Linked DNA regions of Homo sapiens: regions 2, 3 and 4 are each linked to region 1. The links come from fine-mapping of genetic effects on gene expression. A gene starts in region 1. Each other region holds a variant in brackets. All regions are shown on one strand. Distances are between the middles of the regions.

Region 1 (2,689 bases):
TAACCTTGATAATAAATGGAGTAAATGTTCCACTTAAAAGATACAGATTGGTGCTGGGTATGATGGCTTACACTTGTAATCTCAGAACTTCGGTAGGCTGAGGCAGGAGAATTGCTTGAGACCAGGAGTTTGAGACCAGCGTGGGCAACAGAGTGAGACCCCATCTCTGTAAAAAATTAAAAAGAGAAATTAGCCAGGTGTGATCATGCTCACCTGTAAAGAGGCTGAGGCAGGACAATCACTTGAGCCCAGGAGTTTGAGGCTGCAGTGAGCTATAAATGCATTATGGCACTCTAGCCTGGGTGACAGAGTGAGACTGTCTCAAAAAAAAAAAAAATACATACAGACTAAAAGATTGGATAAAAGTAGCATCAGCTCAGGGGTCCTAACTAGTTACAAGAACAGTGCACAAGACAAACACCAGCTAAGATGGCAGGGAGAACAAGCCTGAACAAGGCAAGGCAGAGGTCTGCTAAGGGAAATCCATCCCACAAAAGACAAGCAAGGCAGGGGCTCTCTGAGGCCTAGAGCAGCATGCAAAAGAGCAACTCTTTCCAGGTGGCAGCTCCCTAGCTGCTGCCCCCACATGCTGCTGCCTCTGCAGCCACTCTACCTGCCCCACCCCTGCCCAGGTATTCCAAGCAGCTCTCAGCTCTTTCCCAATATCTGGGCAGTGCTGTTGAGACAAAGGAAGAGGAGAAGTGGACACAGCAGGTCTTGGCTCTTAAGATCTGCAGTTGTGAGTTCCTTTTGCAATCGCTGTAGGTCATTGTGCAACCTGCTGGTCTCTGGACTCCTGATTTCTAGACATCTATAAAATACAGACACTGATGATGCCACTTAATTCACAGAGCTGCAGTGAGAAAGGTGCAGATGAGTTCAAGGCCTGATAGTGTTCTGCAAACTATAGTGATGGATGTGCATAGTATTGTGAATATCAGTGGCAGGTTTCCAGAACGCAGGTGGGGATAAGAGTGAGTGAGTCAATAAAGAAGAAAATTGCCCCACTTCTTGAAGGGAGTTTTTGGGGCTGGGCAGCTCAGGGTACAGGGCAGGCATAAATAGTGAGTGCCTGCCAAGCAAAGGCTAGTTTGCTTGGAGCTCCTGGGGCCTAACAAAAAGAAACCTGTAAGTGTCTCTGTTCTTGCCTTCTTTTTATTTTCTCCACATCCTATAAATATCCCTCTGCCGACCTGGGCAATTCAACCTATTGGTGTGGAGGGTCTGTGTAGCTGTTCTGGTCTAGGAGGCATGGGCGCAGGAGGTGGGGAGCACAGGAGGTCTTATGGTGCTCTTCTGCCCCTTATTCAGTGGCCTCAGCCCAGGGGAGGATTTGCTTTCTGAGCTGGGGGTGCACAGGGTGGAAGAGTGGGTGTGACACTATCTAGACCTGGGATGCCACAGTGTGGAAGCTTCAGGTGGAAAAATGCAATGCTAATTTATCTCTAGGCTCTTTTCTGCACTGATTTCTTCAGAAAGGACAGTGGAAGAGAGACAAACCCAGGCACTCACAGGCTGGGGTTCTAAACCCATCCTGGTGCCAACAGCCTGTGGAAAAGCAGGGCAAGCCTGTTTTTCTCATAGCTTCAGGTCTTTACTTTAAAAAATATACTTACTGGAGTAGGTCTCTGATTTTCCAATCCATGTTCAGAGGAGATGGCCTTTTCAATGAAATTGTACTCTGAAAGCTTAGCATAAACTGGGCACTGCAGGGGTTGAGGGGGACCACAACTCTGCCCACTCCATCTGCTGCCCCAGCTAAGATGCCTCATCTGAATCCTGGGCCTGAAAACCCGGGTCTGCCCTCTCCAAGTGTCCTTCAAGCCACAGTGGCTGCTGGTGCCTTCTGTGCCATCTTGAGCCTGTAGACAGAATGCCTATTGCCTTTCATTCTTCCCCAGAATCAGACACAGGGCCTGAGGGGTGAGGGAGCTGCGGGGCACAGAACAATGCCCTTGCTCTGGCCTGGGTCTGGCCCTTGCTGCTCATGATTGAGCCTCTGCCAGAACAGGTGTAACAAGGTAGCCGCTGCTGGCAGTGAGCTCACCCAGGTGTTTCTAGAGACTACCAGGATACCCAAGGAAGTGGTGATTTCAAAATTGAAAGAGGCTAGTGAGAAATAGGGGTCATCCACAGCCCAGAATCACCAGCAGTCAAAGAAGAAGGCACTCCTCTGGGCAGGAAGCCCCCCACTTGCCACCACCCCAGTTGGCCTGGTGACCCCTTTCTTTGCACAAGTCCCTCTGGCTTTGTTCCTAGCCTCTGCGAATCTGATCAGCTCTTTTCACTCTCATAACTTTACGGTTTCTCATTGAGAGAAAAGATACCCAAAACAGTTAATGTCCCAGGTCCTGCTCTTATCCTGGTCTCAGTTCCTGACCATCTTAGATAGTAAATGGGTGCCCTGTTGGGTAGTTGCTCTTGCTTACCCACAACACTAGCTTTCTGCCTGACTGAGCCTACCTGGCATGTCCTCTTTCCATATAAGACTTCTTTTTTTTTCTGAGATGGAGTCTCACTCTCTTGCCCAGGCTGGAGTGCAGTGGCACGATCTCGGCTCACTGCACCCTCCACCTCCCGGGTTCAAGAGATTCTCCTGCCTCAGCCTCCCGAGTAGCTGGGATTACAGCACGCACCACCACATCTGGCTAATTTTTTATACTTTTAGTAGAGATGGGGTTTTGCCATG
Region 2 (2,689 bases), 20 kb before region 1:
AATAAATTCATGCATTCTCAGCCAACTGATTTTTGAAAAAGATGCCAAGAACACTCAATGGGGAGACAACAGTCTCTTCAACAAATGATGTTGGGAAAACTGGAGGTCCACATGCAGAAGATTGAAATTAGAAACTTATTTCATACCATACACTAAAATCAACTGAAAATGAGTTAAAGAGTAAATATAGGACCTGAAAAAACTACTAGAAGAAAACACGGGGAACAGTCCATGACATTGGTCTGGGCAATTATTTTTTGGATGTGACCCCAAAAGCAAGGGCAATCAAAGCAAAAATAGACAAATATGATTACTTCAAATTAAAAGCCTTCTGTATAACAAAGAACAAACATCAGAGTTAAAAGAACCTACAGAATGGGAGAAAATATTTGCAAACTCTACATCTGATAAAGGGTTACTATATAAGGAACTCAAATACTCCATAACCAGAAAACAATAGGCTGATTTAAAATGTGAAATGATCTGAACAGACATTTCTCAAAAGAAGACATACAGAGGCCAAGAGGTATATAAAAAAAATTCTATATCAGTAATCATTGAGAAAATGGAAATTAAAACTACTATCAGATACAACTTCACTCCTTTTAAAATGGCTACTATAAAAAAAGACAAAGGATAATAAGTGTTGTTGAGGATGTGGAGAAAATGAAAATATTCACGAACTACGCATCTGATAAAGGTCTAATATCCAGATTTTTTTTTTCTTTTGAGACGGAGTTTTGCTCTTTCCCCTAGGCTGGGGTGCAGTGATGCAATCTCAGCTCACTGCAACCTCCCACTTTCAGTTTCAAGTGATTCCCCTGCCTCAGTCTCTCAAGTAGCTGGGATTACAGGCGCCTGCCACCATGCCAGGCTAATTTTTGTATATTTAGTAGAGACAGGGTTTCACCATGTTGGTCAGGCTGGTCTCTAACTCCTGACCTTGTGATCCACAGGCCTCGGCCTCCCAAAGTGCTGGGATTACAGGCTTGAGCCACCATGCCTGGCCCTTATTTTTTATTTTTTATTGGAGACTGCATTCCACTATGTTGGTCAGGCCGGTCTCGAACTCCTGATCTCAGGTGATC[C/T]GCCCACCCCAGCCTCCCAAAGTGCTGGAATTATAGGCATGAGCCACCATGACCGGCCTTATATCCAGAATTTATAAGGAACTTAAATTAACAGGCAAAAAACAACCCCATTAAAAAGTGGGCAAAGGACATGAGCAAACACTTTTCAAAATAAGTGTGGCCAAAAAAACATATGAAAAAATGCTCAATATCACTAATCATCAGATAAATGCAAATAAGAACCATGAGATACCATCTTACACCAGTCAGAACGACTATCATGAAAAAGAAAAAAAAATATGATGTCGGGAAGGCTGCAGAGAAAAGGGAATGCTTACACACTGTTGGTGGGAATGTAAATTAGTTCAGCCATTGTGAAAAGCAGTCTGGATGTTTTTCAAAGAACTTAGAACTACTTTTTGACCCAGAACTACTTTTGACACAGTCTCATTACTGGGTATATATCAAAAAGAAAATAAATAATTCCACTGAAAAGACACATGCATTCATATATTCATTGCAACACTATTCACAATAGCAAAGACATGAAATCAGCCTAGATGCCTATCAACAGTGGACCGGATAATGAAACTGTGGTATACATACATCATGGAATACCACACAGCTATAAAAAAGAATAAAATCATGTCCTTTGCAGCAACATGGATAGAACTGGAGGCCATTATCCTAAGAGAATTAATGTAGCAAAAGAAAACCAAATACTGCATGTTCTCACTGGTAAATAGGAGTAAACATTGGATACTCATGGACATAAAGATGGCAGCAATAGACACTGGGGAGGGGGAAAGTGTTGAAAAACTACTGGGTACCATGCTCACTACCTGGGAAGTGGGTATAATAGTACCGTAAACCTCAGCATCATACAATATACCCATGTAACAACCTGCACAGGTACACCCTAAATCTAAAATAAAAGTTGAAATTATTTTTAAAAATTCCCAACAAAGGGAAATCATAACTATTTGAGGTTATGGATATCCCGATTATCCTGACTTGACCATTATATATTGTATGCATGAGTCAAGATATCACATATACTCCATAAATATGTACAACTATTATGTATCAATAACTTTTTTTTTTTTTTCTGAGCAATAAGGCTGTTTATTTCACCTGGGCGCAGGTGGGCTGAGTCAGAAAAGAGAGTCAGTGAAGGGAGATAGGGGTGGGGCTGTTTTATAGGATTTGGGTAGGTAGTGGAAAATTACAGTCAAAGGGGGTTGTTCTCTGGCAGGCAGGGGCGGGGGTCACAAGGTGCTCATTGGGGGAGCTTCTGAGCCAGGAGAAGGAATTTCACAATGTAATGTCATCAGTTAAGGCAGGAACAGGCCATTTTCACTTCTTTTGTGATTCTTCAGTTACTTCAGGCCATCTGGATGTATACGTGCAGGCCTGGGCTCAGAGGCCTGACATTCCTGTCTTCTTATATTAATAAGAAAAATAAAGATCAGATAGTTGTAGATATGCGGCATTATTTCTGAGGGCTCTGTTCTGTTCCATTGATCTATATCTCTGTTTTGGTACCAGTACCATGCTGTTTTGGTTACTGTAGCCTTGTAGTATAATTTGAAGTCAGGTAGTGTGATGCCTCCAGCTTTGTT
Region 3 (2,689 bases), 50 kb before region 1:
AATAGAAATTATTACTGAGAAAATATAGCATTGTGAAAAAAGGAAATAAAATAAGGGGGATTAGGAATTTTTGGAGAATTGCAGCTTTAAATAGGTAGATGAAAGTAAGCCTATCTGAAAAGGCCACCTGGCAAAGGCTGAGAGGGGGATGAAGGAGTGATTCAAGGGATATGGGGATCATGAGAGGTCAGGAAGCTTTGCAGGCAGAGGTTGGAATGCCTTGAGGTGAGAGGGAGCCTGAGATGTTTAAGAAAAAGCAAGGAGGCCAATACCACTAGATGGTGCCTATGTGAGGCGGAGGGGTGGACAGTAGAAAATGATGTCAGAGAGGAAAGGCAGGAGGAGTACAGGTTAGATAAGACATGTAGGCTATTGAAAATAAACTTTATTGAAATATAGTGCACATACCCAAAAGACCATGTATCATACATAGTCAGTTTAATAAATTGTCACAAAACAACCAAACTCATGGAACAAACATTCAGATAAAGAAAGATAATATTACCTGACTTCAGGAGCCTACTTTTGGTTCCCTTTAAGGCACTGATACCCTTCCCCCAGTAGCTCATATCCTTACTTTTAACCACAGCATAGCTGGGCATGGTGGCTCACGCCTGTAATCCCAGCACTTTGGGAGGCCGAGGCGGGTGGATCACTTGAGGTCAGGAGTTCAAGACCAGGCTGGCCAACATGGTAAAACCCAGTCTCTACTAAAAACACACAAAAAATTTAGCTGTGCATGGCAGCACATGCCTGTAATCCCAGCTACTGGGGAAGCTGAGGCAGGAGAATCGCTTAAACTCGGGAGGCGGAGGTTGCAGTGAGCCGAGATTGTGCCACTGCACTCCAGCCTGGGTGACAGAGTAAGACTCCATCTCAAAATAAAATAAAATAAATTAACCACAGCAAAGATTAGTTTTGTCTGTTTTATATAAAATATTAATGGAATTATACAGTATTCTCATTTATTTACTCCTAATTTTAAAGATAAATTCTGTAATCCAGGGCTTGGCAAACTTTCCCTACAAACAACAAAAAGTAAACATTTTGGGCATTGGGCAAAGTGGAGTTTCAAGTACTCAGCTCTGTCATTTCGGCTTAAAAGCAGCCATAGACAATAGGTAAATAAATGGGTGTGGCTAGTGTCCCAAGAAAATTATTTATAAAAACTGAAACTGGCTGGATAGGGCCCATTTGTAATAGTTTGCCAACCCCTGCTTCCATTTGTAATATTATTATTGTGAATGGCTGTGAGGCCCTAATTCTACACTATAAACAGGTAGTCAGTTGTACCAACATTGTTGTGATTAATCATTTTCTCTCTGAATACTACCAGTACTCTTTTTTTCTTTTCTTTTTTTTAAATAGAAATGGAGTCTCACTATATTGCCCAGACTGGTCTCGAAATCCTGGCCTCAGGTGACTTTCCTGCCTCAGCTGGGATTACAGGTACTAGGATTACAAGTGTGAGCCACAGTCTTCAATGCTTATCTATCTCCATCTTTCT[A/G]TTAGGTTCCATTGCTGAAGAGGATGGCGTTATAAAGTAAGGGGAACAGAAAATAAGAGGAAAAACAAAACACAAAGATAAATTTCCTGAGGAAGAATTGTGCAGACTTAATGAGAAATATGCACAGCACCCTTACCCTAATTTTACGACCAGAGAACTGGTCAAACAACTGCATTGTCATGTGTGTGTAAGTCATGTAAGTTTAGAGGTTTTTGTTTTTGTTTTTTTTTTTTTTTTGAGACAGAGTCTCCCTGTGTTGCACAGGCTGGAATGCAGTGGGGCGATCTCGGCTTACTGCAACCTCTGCCTCCCAGATTCAAGCAATTCTCCTGCCTCAGCCTCCCAAGTAGCTGGGACTACAGACGCATGCCACCACGCCCGGCTAATTTTTTGTGTTTTAGTAGAGATAGGGTTTCACCGTGTTGCCTAGGCTGGTCTCGAACTCCTCAGCTCAGGCAATCTACCTGCCTCAGCCTCCCAAAGTGCTGGGATTACAGGTGTGAGCCACCACGCCTGGCAAATTTAGAGCTTTGTAAATTTCCTGGAAAATATAGATGAGGCTGGGCGCAGTGGCTCACACATGTAATCCCAGCACTTTGGGAGGCCAAGATGGGTGGATAACCTGAGGTCAGGAGCTCGAAACCATCCTTGCCAGCACGATGAAACCTTGTCTGTACTAAAAATATAAAATTTAACTGGGCATGGTGGCATATGCCTGTAATCCCAGGTACTCAGGAGGCTGAGGCAGGATAATCGCTGGAACCCGGGAGGCAGATGTTGCAGTGAGCCAAGATCACACCACTGAACTCCAGACTGGGTGACACAGCGAGACTCCATCTCAAAAAAAAAAGAAAAGAAAAGAAAAAAGAAAAAATATAGATGGATGTAGGTACTAGTTTTTTTTTTAATAGAGAGGCAAATAATTGAATGATATCAAAGAGAAAAGAGTGGTAGTCAACCAAAATAAAAAGTATGAAATTTCTCACATAATAAAAGTATCATAATATTTGCATTTTTACAGATAATATAAAAAATGAAAAGAATTATGAAGCAGTGTAATAGCATTAATCACCTGGTAAAATGGTATTGATATTTTGCCACATTTCTTGTTTATCTATATGTGATACCAATGTGTGTTGGGAAAACATGAGTAGAGTGAGGCTAATTTGTAGGGTGATGGTA
Region 4 (2,689 bases), 38 kb before region 1:
TATTGTTACCAGTGAGTTTTGTATCTTCAGATTCTTTTTCTTTTCTTTTTTTTTGAGATGGAGTCTTGTTCTGTCACCCAAGCTGTAATGCAGTGGCATGATCTCAGCTCACTGGAACCTTTGCCTCCTGGGTTCAAGTGATTCTCCTGACTCAGCCTCATGAGTAGATGGGATTACAGTTGCCTGCCACCACACCTGGCTAATTTTTGTAGTTTTAGTAGAGACGGACTTTCACCCGGCTGGCCTTGAACTCCTGACCTTGTGATCCACCCGCCTCAGCCTCCCAAAGGGCTGTGATTATAGGCGTGAGCCACTGCGCCCAGCCAGATGTCTTATTGCTTGTTAACATCCTTTCTTTTTTCAGATCGAAGAACTCCCTTTAACATTTCCTGTAGGATAAGTCTGGTGTTGATAAAATCCCTAAGATTTTATTTGTCTGGGAAAGTATTTCTCCTTCATGTTTGAAGGATATTTTCACTGGATTTAATATTGTAGAATACAAGTTTTTCCTCCAGCACTTTACATATATAATGCCACTCTCTCTTGGCCTGTAAGGTTTCCACTGAGAAATCTACTGCCAGATGTGTTGCGCCTTTATATGTTATCTTTTTCTTATATCTTGCTGCTTTTAGGATCCTTTCTTCATCTTTGACATTTGGAAATCTGATTATTAAATATCTTGAGGTAGTCTTATTTGGGTTAAATCTGCTTGGTATCCCATAAGTTTCTTTTTCTTTTTTTCTTTTTTTTAATTCAGGTGTCCTTTTACTGCCGGCAACCGAGAGATGGCTAGAGCTCAAAATTCTCTCGGCCCTGAAGAAGGGGCTAGATTTCTTTTTATACTGTGATCTAAATAGGGGATGGGGAGCCTAGCTGAAGCAATTTTTACGGAAGCAGAACAGGCAAAAAGTTTAAAAAAATTAATGGTTACAGAGATAGTTACAGAAATATAAACAGTTCCAGGTGCAGGGGCTTAAACTATCACAAAGAGATAAATGCAGGGGCTTGGGTACCATCCACTGAGCACATCCCCAGCAGCTGCTGGTACAGCTTGCCTCAATATCTTATCAGTAAGTGCATTCCTGGATGTGCTTGGAGTCAGCTTGCACTAGTTATTCCCCTAAGGGAGGGGGGATAAGGGGGCTGCAAGTGAAGAAGCTAAAATGGAGTCTGTCCGGCTCTCTCAGCTAAGAGAGAGTCACTCAGGTTAAAACAGGGTAGGGTATCACAGATAGACAGTTGATA[T/C]AATTGATAGATGATAGATTACTTTTATGGGTCCTCCCCTGTCCATTAAGACTGAAACTGTGTGTGATTATGTTTCCTTGAATCATTACCACTTTTTTCTTCCTAAGCGTGTTACCTTCCTATTTCACCATAGAAACTTTCAATATTTTGCTCAGAAACTCAGGGCTTTTGGGTACTGCCCTCCCACTGTCTAGTTTTTGTGCTTTCTTTTGGGGTCCTCTCTGGAGGCCACAACCATCTTTGGGGCATGCCCAGGAGAGAAGGAGGTGGATCTAGTTCCCTTAGAATGGCTTTGGTGATGCTCTTTGCTGCAGACAGACTACAATCTGCTCCAACATCCCTTCCCCCTTTCTTTTTTCTTTGCCTCCCCTCCTCTGCCACATCTCTATTCCTCCCAGCCTTTCTCCACTCTTCTGTACGCCCATCATTCTCCTCCACTTCCAAGGTCACAGGCATCACCATGTAAGCCTCCCATCCCAGATAAGCAGCCTCCAAGATGACCCATGATCCCCACCTCCTTGTATGTACATCGTTGTGTAGGACCCTTCTGCACTGAGCAGGGCTGAGCTGTGTTAGCACTAGGATATATGGGAATGACAAGGTGGCATATGACTTCCAAAGTTAAGGTCACTTTGCTGTCTCGGATCACTAAGGCAGCTATCATGTTGTGAGGAGGCTCAAGTTGTCTTGTGGTGGGTCCCTGTGGCAAGGAACTGAGCTCTCCTGCTGACAGCCAGCAGTGCCTTCCCAACCATTAGAGTGAGTCACCTTAGAAGCAAATTCTCCAGCTCCAGTGTATCCTTTAGATAACTGCCACTCTGGTCATCATCTTGTCTACAACCTCATGAGAAACCTCAGCCAGAACCACCCAGCTAAGTTGCCTCTGAATTCCTGAGACACAGAAACTGTGAGATAATAAATGTTTACTGTTTTAAGACTCTAAATTTGGAGTAATTTGCTATTCAGCCATAGAAACTAACACTCATTTCATCATGCCTGACACTGATATCGCTACAGTTTCACATCCCTGTGGCTAAAGCTCTCCAAGGGCTCATCATTAATTTCAGGATAAAATCCAAATCCCTTAACATAGAATAGGTCTTTTATGAACTGCCTCCTGCATGCCTCTCAGCCCCATCCGGCCCACTCTGCCTTTCCTCCTTGCATCACTCCAGCTACTCTGAAACACACTGCACCTTCCTAAATGTGGACAGATAAAATTGCCAGACTTTTCATAGGATGCCCAGTGAAATTTGAATTTCAGATAAATAACAAATAATTTGTGTGGTTATACAATATTTGGGACATACTTATACTAAAAACATTGCATGACACATACTTATTCTTAAAAGTTATTATTTTATCTGAAATTCACATTTAATAGGGCATCCTGTACTTTCCGTTGCTAAATCTGGCAACGCTACAGATGCGAGCTGCTCACTTT

Direction of the effects. Positions count from the first base shown, and alleles are read on the strand shown. Sizes are in standard deviations (SD) of each study's normalised expression. Not every link is listed here.
For the expression in anterior cingulate cortex of the gene that starts at base 1,089 in region 1, allele A in region 3 goes with a lower level than allele G (moderate effect, 0.64 SD a copy in GTEx).
For the expression in atrial appendage of the gene that starts at base 1,089 in region 1, T is the low allele of the variant in region 4 and C is the other (moderate effect, 0.54 SD a copy in GTEx).

Evidence for each region. PIP is the estimated chance that this variant, and not a neighbour inherited with it, causes the effect.
Region 2: its variant is fine-mapped to the expression of SFTPD in whole blood (TOPMed, PIP above 0.99). The same link has a PIP of 0.9 or more in blood mononuclear cells and monocytes.
Region 3: its variant is fine-mapped to the expression of SFTPD in anterior cingulate cortex (GTEx, PIP above 0.99). The same link has a PIP of 0.9 or more in amygdala and whole blood.
Region 4: its variant is fine-mapped to the expression of SFTPD in atrial appendage (GTEx, PIP above 0.99).

What each region holds. Positions count from the first base shown.
Region 1 is chr10:79,947,505-79,950,193 of GRCh38, reverse strand. SFTPD (surfactant protein D) reads left to right here and starts at 1,089. Exons shown (of 8, transcript NM_003019.5): 1 at 1,089-1,128.
Region 2 is chr10:79,967,514-79,970,202 of GRCh38, reverse strand. It overlaps a transcript of SFTPD not described here. Among named protein-coding and RNA genes, the nearest start is that of SFTPD, 20 kb to the right of the region's middle. The variant C/T (reference allele first, on the strand shown) is at 1,089.
Region 3 is chr10:79,997,781-80,000,469 of GRCh38, reverse strand. No RefSeq gene overlaps it. Among named protein-coding and RNA genes, the nearest start is that of SFTPD, 50 kb to the right of the region's middle. The variant A/G (reference allele first, on the strand shown) is at 1,508.
Region 4 is chr10:79,985,192-79,987,880 of GRCh38, reverse strand. No RefSeq gene overlaps it. Among named protein-coding and RNA genes, the nearest start is that of SFTPD, 37 kb to the right of the region's middle. The variant T/C (reference allele first, on the strand shown) is at 1,246.